Linked DNA regions of Homo sapiens: region 1 is linked to region 2. The links come from fine-mapping of genetic effects on gene expression. A gene starts in region 2. The other region holds a variant in brackets. All regions are shown on one strand. Distances are between the middles of the regions.

Evidence for each region. PIP is the estimated chance that this variant, and not a neighbour inherited with it, causes the effect. A credible set is the group of variants that fine-mapping cannot tell apart.
Region 1: its variant is the best candidate, but not a certain one, in a credible set for the expression of PSD in whole blood (INTERVAL, PIP 0.72).

Annotation. Positions count from the first base shown.
Region 1 is chr10:102,316,508-102,320,894 of GRCh38, reverse strand. The region is part of intron 3 of GBF1 (golgi brefeldin A resistant guanine nucleotide exchange factor 1); the gene reads right to left. Among named protein-coding and RNA genes, the nearest start is that of GBF1, 73 kb to the right of the region's middle. The variant A/G (reference allele first, on the strand shown) is at 1,936.
Region 2 is chr10:102,416,399-102,420,785 of GRCh38, reverse strand. It overlaps PSD (pleckstrin and Sec7 domain containing), which reads left to right and starts at 2,001. Exons shown (of 17, transcript NM_002779.5): 1 at 2,001-2,085; 2 at 3,665-4,387. The coding sequence starts at 3,748. RefSeq lists an enhancer at 1-32.

The DNA.
Region 1 (4,387 bases), 100 kb after region 2:
GAATCTAGGAGGTGGAGGTTGTAGTGAGCCGAGACTCCGAGACTGCACCACTGCACTCCAGTCTGGGCGACAGAGTCAGACTCCATTTAAAAAAAAAAAGAATTAAAAATAAAAACTAAAATATATAATAAGTAGAATAAAATGATCTTGAGGTGAAAAGAAAACTGTCTGAGATTCATTAACAGATTGCTTCTCAGCCTTTCAGCTAAAATCAAGCATAGATTCATTAACAGATTCTTAGCAGAAGAAAAGGAAATATAAGCAGAGCAGAAAAGGCTGAAGAGCAAGTTGCTTTAGAAGGAAGTACCAATAAGAAACAAGCTCTGGAAGGAGGCACCAGGTAGAAGGTGAGACATGGAACAGAAAACAGGGGGACTAATTGAGAAAACAGAAAAAATGGAGAAGGGGGAAAAGGGGAAATTATTGAGGAACTAATATAAGATCATTTCCCAAAATCAAATGATATAATTTTGCAGATCAAAAAGACCCTTACTAAGAACCTAGCAGAATAACTAAAAGAGACCCACACCAAGTGTTTCAGAATAATGAGGATAAAGAAATTGTAAGAACTCCAGTTTAAATATAAAGGACTGAGATTCAATATGGCATCAGACTACTCAAGATCAACACTGGAAATGAGAAGAAAAAGAAGCAGAGCCATCAAGTTTCGAAGGAAAACTATTTCCAAACTAGAATTCTATATCCGGTAAAACCTTCAATTAGTGTCAGTATAGAATAAAAAGATAGCTTCAGATAAGCAATGTCTAAAAAAACCATACATCCCCAGGTGTCCTTTCCTAGAAGCTACTGGATGACGTAAAAAATAAAAAATAAAAAACCAATGTGAGACAGTAAATCAAGAAAGAAATGGGCCAGGTGCAGTGGTTCACGCCTGTAATCCCAGCACTTTGGAAGGCAGAGGCACATCACCTTAGGTCAGGAGTTTGAGATCAACCTGGCCAATATGGTGAAACCCCATCTCTACTAAAAATATAAAAATTAGTTGGGCGTGGTGGCAGGCACCTGTAATCCCAGCTACTCAGGAGGCAGAGGCAGGAAAATTGCTTGAACTTGGGAGGCGGAGGTTGCAGTGAGCCGAGATCACATCACTGCACTCCAGCCTGGGCGACATGAGTGAAACTCTGTCTCAAAAAAAAAAAAAAAAAGAAAGAAAAAGAAAAAGAAAAAAGAAAGAAATGGACATAGCATAAACAAGAAAAAGGAGATCTAGAGAAAACTGAAGGGAAGTTCCAGAAGGACAGCTGTGCCTGAGGTCTAGACAGTAACCAATACAGAATAGAAGAAGAGGATGGGAGGCTCTGAGAAGGAGTTTCTAGGAAGAGATAAAAATGGAAGAGAAGAGCTGTGTGTTTGACCACGTGGAAAAATAATATTCAGTTTTTAAAACTTGTAGAATTTGAGAAGAAACAGTAATAGTAACAGAAAACAGCATATTTTCAAAAGGAAGGGAAAACTTGAATAATGAATTCAAATGAATAATACTAAAGATCTTTTTTTTTAGAGACAGGAGTCCTGCTATGTTACCCAGGCTAGCCTTTTGTTGTTGTTGTTGTTGAGACGGAGTCTCACTCTGTCACCCAGGCTGGAGTGCAGTGGCGCGATCTCGGCTCACTGCAAGCTCCGCCTCCCGGGTTCATGCCATTCTCCTGCCTTAGCCTCTCGAGTAGCTGGGACTACAGGCACCTGCCACCACGCCCGGCTAATTTTGTTTTGTATTTTTAGTAGAGACGGGGTTTCACCATGTTAGCCAGGATAGTCACGATCTCCTGACCTCGTGATCCATCTGCCTTAGCCTCCCAAAGTGCTGGGATTACAGGCATGAGCCACTGCGCCCAGCCTACCCAGGCTAGTCTTGAACTTCTGGCCTCAACAGATCCTCCTGTCTTGGCTTCCCAAAATGCTGGGATTACAGGC[A/G]TGAGCCACTGTGCCCAGCTATAAGGTCTTAATAAGGTAAAGAATGAGTACTGGTTTAACCAAATGGGGTGATAATTATATTGGGAGGATGGAGGAAAGGAGAATGGGGTGGTGAGTATTGCAAATGTGCTATATCTACATGTAGGAGTAGGAAGTCAATAGATAATGCTTAAAATGTAAAAATCCTATTTAAAAATGTAGTATCAACATATTATTTAGAAATAGAAAAGAAAACAACTGAATAAACAGCTAAAAGAGTTTAGGGAGGGGACCTTGAAGGGGGGGAAGTTGGACTTTGCAGCACAATTTGACTTTTTAAAACTATGTACATGTATTACCTAAAGAGAAATAAAAATAATAGAAGGAATTTATTATAAGGATCCTTAAGAGTGATAAGCAAAAAATCGTGTACCAAGATATTTATACCACATTGCTTATAATATTGAAAAACTGGGAATAATCTAAATAACCACTGGGCACGGTGCTCATGCCTGTAATCCCAGCACTTTGGGAGGCCAAGGTAGGTGGATCGCTTGAGCCCAGGAGTTCAAGACCAGCCTTGGCAACATGGCGAAACCCCATCTCTACAAAAAAAAATTACAAAAATTAGCCGGGTGTGATGATGCGCACCTGTAGTCCCAGCTACTTGGGGGGCTAAGGCAGGAGAATCACTTGAGCCCAGGAGGTTGAGGGTGCAGTGAGCCACACCACTGCCTTCTAGCCTAGGCAACAAAGTGAGACACTATCTTAAAATAAATAAATAGACTGGGCATGGTGGCTCACACCTGTAATCCCAGCACTTTGGGAGGCCGAGGCCGGGCGGATCACAAGGTCAGGAGATCGAGACCACGGTGAAACCTTGTCTCTACTAAAAATACAAAAAATTAGCCAGGCGTGGTGGCAGGCGCCTGTAGTCCCAGCTATTTGGGAGGCTGAGGCAGGAGAATGGCGTGAACCCGGGAGGCAGAGCTTGTAGTGAGCTGAGATCACACCACTGCACTCCAGCCTGGGTGACAGGGCGAGACTCCGTCTCAAAATAAATAAATAAATAAATAAAAATAAATAAATAAATAACCAACAACAGGAAGCTCTTAAATAAATTCTGTAACATTCATACAATGAATAATATCATTAGATCTTATTTTCTAATGTGTAATGATGTGGGACAATGCCCATAACATGATAAAAGAAGAGGCAAAAATGTATAGAATATGATTCCCATTTTGCTAAGGGTGATATTGTGTTTGCGTGCGCTAAAAAAAGATAAAATAATAGTTATCTTTAGGTGATTGGACTATGGAGGTTCTTGTTTCCATCTCTTTAAACTTTTTTATTTTTTTAAAGATGTAGTCTTGCTCTTGTCGCCCAGGCTGGAGTGCAATGACGTGATTTTGGCCACAGCAACCTCCGCCTCCTGGGTTCAAGCGATTCTCCTGCCTCAGCCTTCTCAAGTAGCTAGGATTACAGGCATGTGCCACCATGCCTGGCTAATTTTGTATTTTTAGTAAAGATGGGGTTTCTCCACGTTGGCCAGGTTGGTCTCGAACTCCTGACCTCAGGTGATCCACCCACCTTGGCCTCCCAAACTGCTGGGATTACAGGCATGAGCCACCATGCCCAGCATCTTTAAACTTTTTTGTATCTTCCTAAATTTATATAATAGTCTATGTAGACATGGGCTATTATTATTTTTTAGATACAGGGTCTCACTATGTTGCCCAGGCTAGACTTGGACTTCTGGGCTAAGCGATTCTCCCATCTCAGCCTCTGGAGTAGCTGGGACTACCAACACATGCCACTGTGCCTGGCTTATATTACTACTAAATGTTATTTTTTAAAAGCCAGTTAGAAAAAAAAAGGGGGCACTGGGCAGCCTAAATCACAGAGTCTGAAGACTATTATTACTAAGTTTTAGTAAAACTCACTTCCCAAAACTTAATATGAGCACTGCTTTGTTGTTCATGAATAGCTAAAAATGATGTTTAGCATAATCTCCCATTATTAGGGAATTTAAAATAATTATTTAAAATGGCATTTATAGGATTACTGAAACAATACTGGCCTTCCTGCATTCAAATCCCTCATCCTCTCCTTCAGTGAATATTATTTTGTACCTTCTGTGGGCCTGGCACTGCTAGCCATTGGATATACAAAGAAGAATAATCCAAAGTCTTGCTTACAGACTATAGACTACACTAGCTTTTATGACCACAGCCAAACTTCAAATTTTCTGGGTCTTATTTTATCAGTTGGTCTATCTGTCTATCTATCTAAAAGGATAGGACTGGAAATGGCCATATGGCTCAGAAATTCAATGACTATGATTTCTGATTGTCAGGCATGCCAAGTATTCTACTCGTTAACTGTGGCACAGTTTTATATCTGTGACTCACTGAAGACCTAAATGGTGGTTCTGTTCCTAATGCTTGTTAAAAAGACACTAATATTGTGA
Region 2 (4,387 bases):
CAGGACTCTTAGGTTACCGGCCTCTCCTCTGCCCTCTGGTCGCGTTTAGCGACTTTGAAAAACGGGGAGAAACTATCCAGGCTCTTACTGTCTGCCACGTAGCAGGTGTTCAATAAGTAATTGTTGAAATAATGAATGAATTGGCGAGGCTATAATGTTTCCCTCATCAAGTAAACCTGCTCAAACCTCCCATTCCTGATTAATTATGAAGAGCTATCCAGCCTCTTCCACTTCGTAACAGTTTGGGCCGCGTTTCCGCCGGGGGAGAGAGATGTAGGGGGCGCGAAGAAAGACTATATTTCCAACTGGGTCCCTTTCATTTCCTCCAAAGGTCCAGAGTCCTAAGAAGAATGAGAGCTCAGCTCAGCCCGCCAGTGGTAGTGCTTCTCGGCTGGCCTTGGGTTTAGTTGTAGGGTCTGGGGCTGGGTCCGCCCTGGGACAATGACGCCCCAGACCTCTGGACTCAGCTTCAGGGCTGCCTCTCACCGCGTCCCCAGGTCCCAGTCCCAGGATCCGCTTCGGGGAACCCCAGGAGTAGTGCCTTCCCCCATCATCCACGGGATGGGTGTGGGGGGATGTGAAGGACGCGAGAGCCACTGCACCGCTGACGGTCTGGCGCTCCGGTGCAACCGCTTCAGCTGGCTCATCACAACGAAAACCACTTCTCATCTGTTATCTCGTCAAGGCTTCGGGCACCTCTGAAAGGTGGGCAGGTCTATGCTATCAGTCCATTTTAAAGATGGGGAAACCGAGGCCCTGGAGAGGAAGCCCCTTGTCCAGAATCAAGCCAGACGGGAATAGAGAACCCAGACATCTGGTTTTCCCAGAATTCCTTCCACGTTTCCCCACCCCGCAAGGCAGCGAGAAGGGAGAAGCTAGCAGCGGGGAGAGACAAGAAAGGGGTCAAGTTAGGTGAGGGCTTGCTATCTCTTCTTCCTCAGCCTGCTTAGGGAGGGGGTAGCTGGGAGGACAGACCCCTGCAAAGATAGAGCCACGTGAGCGCGCACCACCTCCGGCCGCGCGCCTCGTCCCCCTCCCCTCTTTGTTCGCGCCTCTGCGCCTGCGCAGTGCGACAAATCTGGCGCTGTCCCCTTCAGCACCACGCGGAGTCCGCGCCGCCCCTCCCCGCGGTGAGCCCCGCGCGCCCCCGCCTCGCACGTCCTCGCGCCCCCTGACTGCCCGAACAGACCCCTTCTTCCTTCCGAGGTCACCATCTGCCCGCCCTGGCCCTCCCAAAGAGAGTAGTTGCCATAGTAACTCCAGCGGCTCTTTCTTAAAATAGCAGGGCCCCCTTCTACCCTGGCCAAGGGCACAAGGGTTGCCGGTCCCCCACGTCTTCCGGTCCCTAGTTCATCCCGTCTAACCTCTTACCCCTGGGCAGGCGTGACGACACCTAACTCAGGCAGCAAGGAAGTTCTTCCTGAAGTCTGATTTAACATCCCCCTGCTGCATCCTGGGAGGGTGGTCAGGGTTGGATCTCCTGGGTCCGAGACTCAAAACCCCTGGCGGGTTCAAGACGGTGTTCCCTAGATCTCCTTTCCATAGTTGATGGTCTCCTGGATTTAGGGGGCGGGTCCAGTCTACACCCATACCGTGTGCTTGGCGCGGCCGCGTGCTCGTGGGGGCGGGAGCGCGTGTGGCATGTAACAGGTCATGTGGCAGCCTCCTAGGGACACGCGTGGGGTCTGGAGCGGGACACGCGTGTGCAGCCGGGCCTTACGTGTGGCTCAAGGGGCGGTGGGCGAGAGAGACGTGGACACAAGTGGGGTGGGGCACGTGAGGGTCTGGGGAATAGAACCAGGGGTTCCATGCGCCCTCCTCCTTGTCTGGGGCGGGTCTTAGGTTGGCGGGAGAGCCCAGCGGGGACCTAGCGACAAGGGGGGCTGGCAGCCTCCGGGGCTCTGGGCCCTGGGAGAGGGCGGGGGGTGGGGGGGATTAGCGTTGCCTGAGCGGCGCGTAGGGGGTAGGGGGAGGGACTGAGAGGCGGGCGGGCCTGGAGCAAACGGGAGCCGCGCTGCCTTCACAGCTCAGCTGGGCCCAGCCTCTCCTCTGTCTCTCCTCGGTCTCAGCTCTGGGCGAGCAGCGGTGAGTACTGAGGTGGCATTGAGTTGGGGCTGCACCGGGTATGCGCTGGGACCCCGTTGAGCTTCCGGAACCTGCCTGGCAGGGTTGCTACTCCTGACCTCTGCCCCTCCCCTGCATTGCCACCAGAGGCCCCTTTACCTGGTTATGGTCTCTCCTGGGCGGGATCTGTCTTACCCCTGGGGAGAGAGGGAGAGGAGAGGAATATGGGTGCAGATTCCCCTCAAGAGACCCCAGTAGGTGGGGGGGAGGGGACGGTGTGTGTCCCTGCTTGAGTGTGTACATCTGTATGTGTACATCTGTATGTGTATGTGACTGTGAGCAGTAGGTCTCTGTGAGTGTCTGATACACCTGGACCTCTGTGTGCACTGGAGAATGACAGCTTGTGTATATATTTGGGTACCTCTTTGTGTGTTCCTGTTTGATGATGGTGTGTGTGTAAAACAAGCATGTGCCTTTTCATTACACACATACTTGTTATGACTGTGAGAGTGCATGAGGGTGTGTCTTTGAGCAGTGTGTGTGTGTGTGTGTCTGTGTGTGTGCCAGAGGGTGTTGCCTATGAATGTGTTTAACTGTGTACTGACATATTTGTCCTTATGTATGTGTGTGCGTGTGTGTGTGTGTGTGTGTGTGTGTGTGTTTGTGTGTGTGTAGGTGCCTGTCTGTACCTGTATGAAGAAAAGAATGTCCCTGGCCGGGTGCGGTGGCTCACGCCTGTAATCCCAACACTTTGGGAGGCCAAAGTGGGTGGATCCCCTGAGGTCAGGAGTTTGAAACTAGCCTGGACAACATGGTGAAACTCCATCTCTACTAAAAATACAAAAATTAGCCAGGCATAGTGCTGAGCGCCTGTAATCCAAGCTATTCAGGAGTCTGAGGCAGGAGAATCACTTGAACTTGGGAGGCGGAGGTTGCAGTGAGCTGAGATAGCGCCATTCCACTCCAGCCTGGGCAGCAGGGGCGAAACTCCATCTCAAAAAAAAAAAAAAAAAAGAAGAATGTCCCTTTCCCACTCAGTATGTATATATTGGGGGTAGGAGCCTCTGCTCAGGCTTTTCTCCCCACTTCCATGCTGTGCCTCTCAGCCCTTCAGCATCCCTATATAACACCTGTTCCTCTTCCCTCTCCTTCCAGGAGGCCTGAGTTTCCCTTCCCTGAGTGAGGGGCCTCCATAAGAGAGACTATAGGGGTCACAGGGCTGTATGATGGTGACAGCTGGCTGACACCCCTTTTCCAGAGGGTGGGGTACCAACTTCCCCTATTCTAGAAGTAGCTCCAAAGTGCCATAAGAACTCCGGGCTCACTCAACTTTGAAGTTGCTTCCTCTCTCCTCCCAGGGTGATGCTCAGGGCCTCAGGCAGAAGGAAAGGAGCCAGGGGCCCACTGGGTGTATAAGTCTTTTCTCGTCAGGCCTCTATGGAAGTAGTCCCCAGGCGTGGGATCAATGATCCCATATTACCAGGGTGTGCTAGGTCCCTGATACTCAGAGGCCCTAGCCAACTTTCCCTTCCCTATCTCTGCTGTCCTATCCATCTAACTCCTTGGCAGTTCACCCCATGCTCCCCTTCCTCTCTTACAGGCCTGTCTGAAGAGCATGCAGCCCCCTTACTCCCCGCCTGGCCTCGCCATCCCTGCCCCCCCAGCCTGACCCCCGGCCCCAGCATGGCCCAGGGTGCCATGCGCTTCTGCTCGGAAGGCGACTGTGCCATCTCCCCACCACGATGCCCACGCCGCTGGCTCCCCGAAGGCCCGGTGCCCCAGAGCCCCCCAGCCAGCATGTATGGCAGCACAGGCTCCTTGCTACGGCGAGTGGCAGGTCCAGGTCCTCGAGGCCGGGAACTGGGACGTGTGACAGCACCCTGTACACCTCTGCGTGGCCCCCCCTCACCCCGTGTTGCTCCCTCACCCTGGGCACCCTCTTCACCCACTGGGCAGCCCCCACCCGGGGCCCAGAGCTCTGTGGTCATCTTCCGCTTTGTGGAGAAGGCCAGTGTGAGGCCACTGAATGGGCTACCTGCTCCAGGGGGCTTGAGTCGGAGCTGGGATCTGGGTGGGGTTTCTCCTCCCAGGCCCACCCCAGCCCTTGGGCCTGGCTCCAACCGGAAGTTACGGCTGGAAGCATCCACATCAGACCCACTCCCCGCCAGAGGAGGCTCGGCCCTACCTGGCAGCCGGAACCTTGTACATGGGCCGCCAGCCCCACCCCAGGTTGGAGCAGATGGCCTTTACTCCTCTCTCCCCAATGGGCTGGGGGGCCCCCCTGAGCGCCTGGCCACACTCTTCGGAGGACCTGCTGACACTG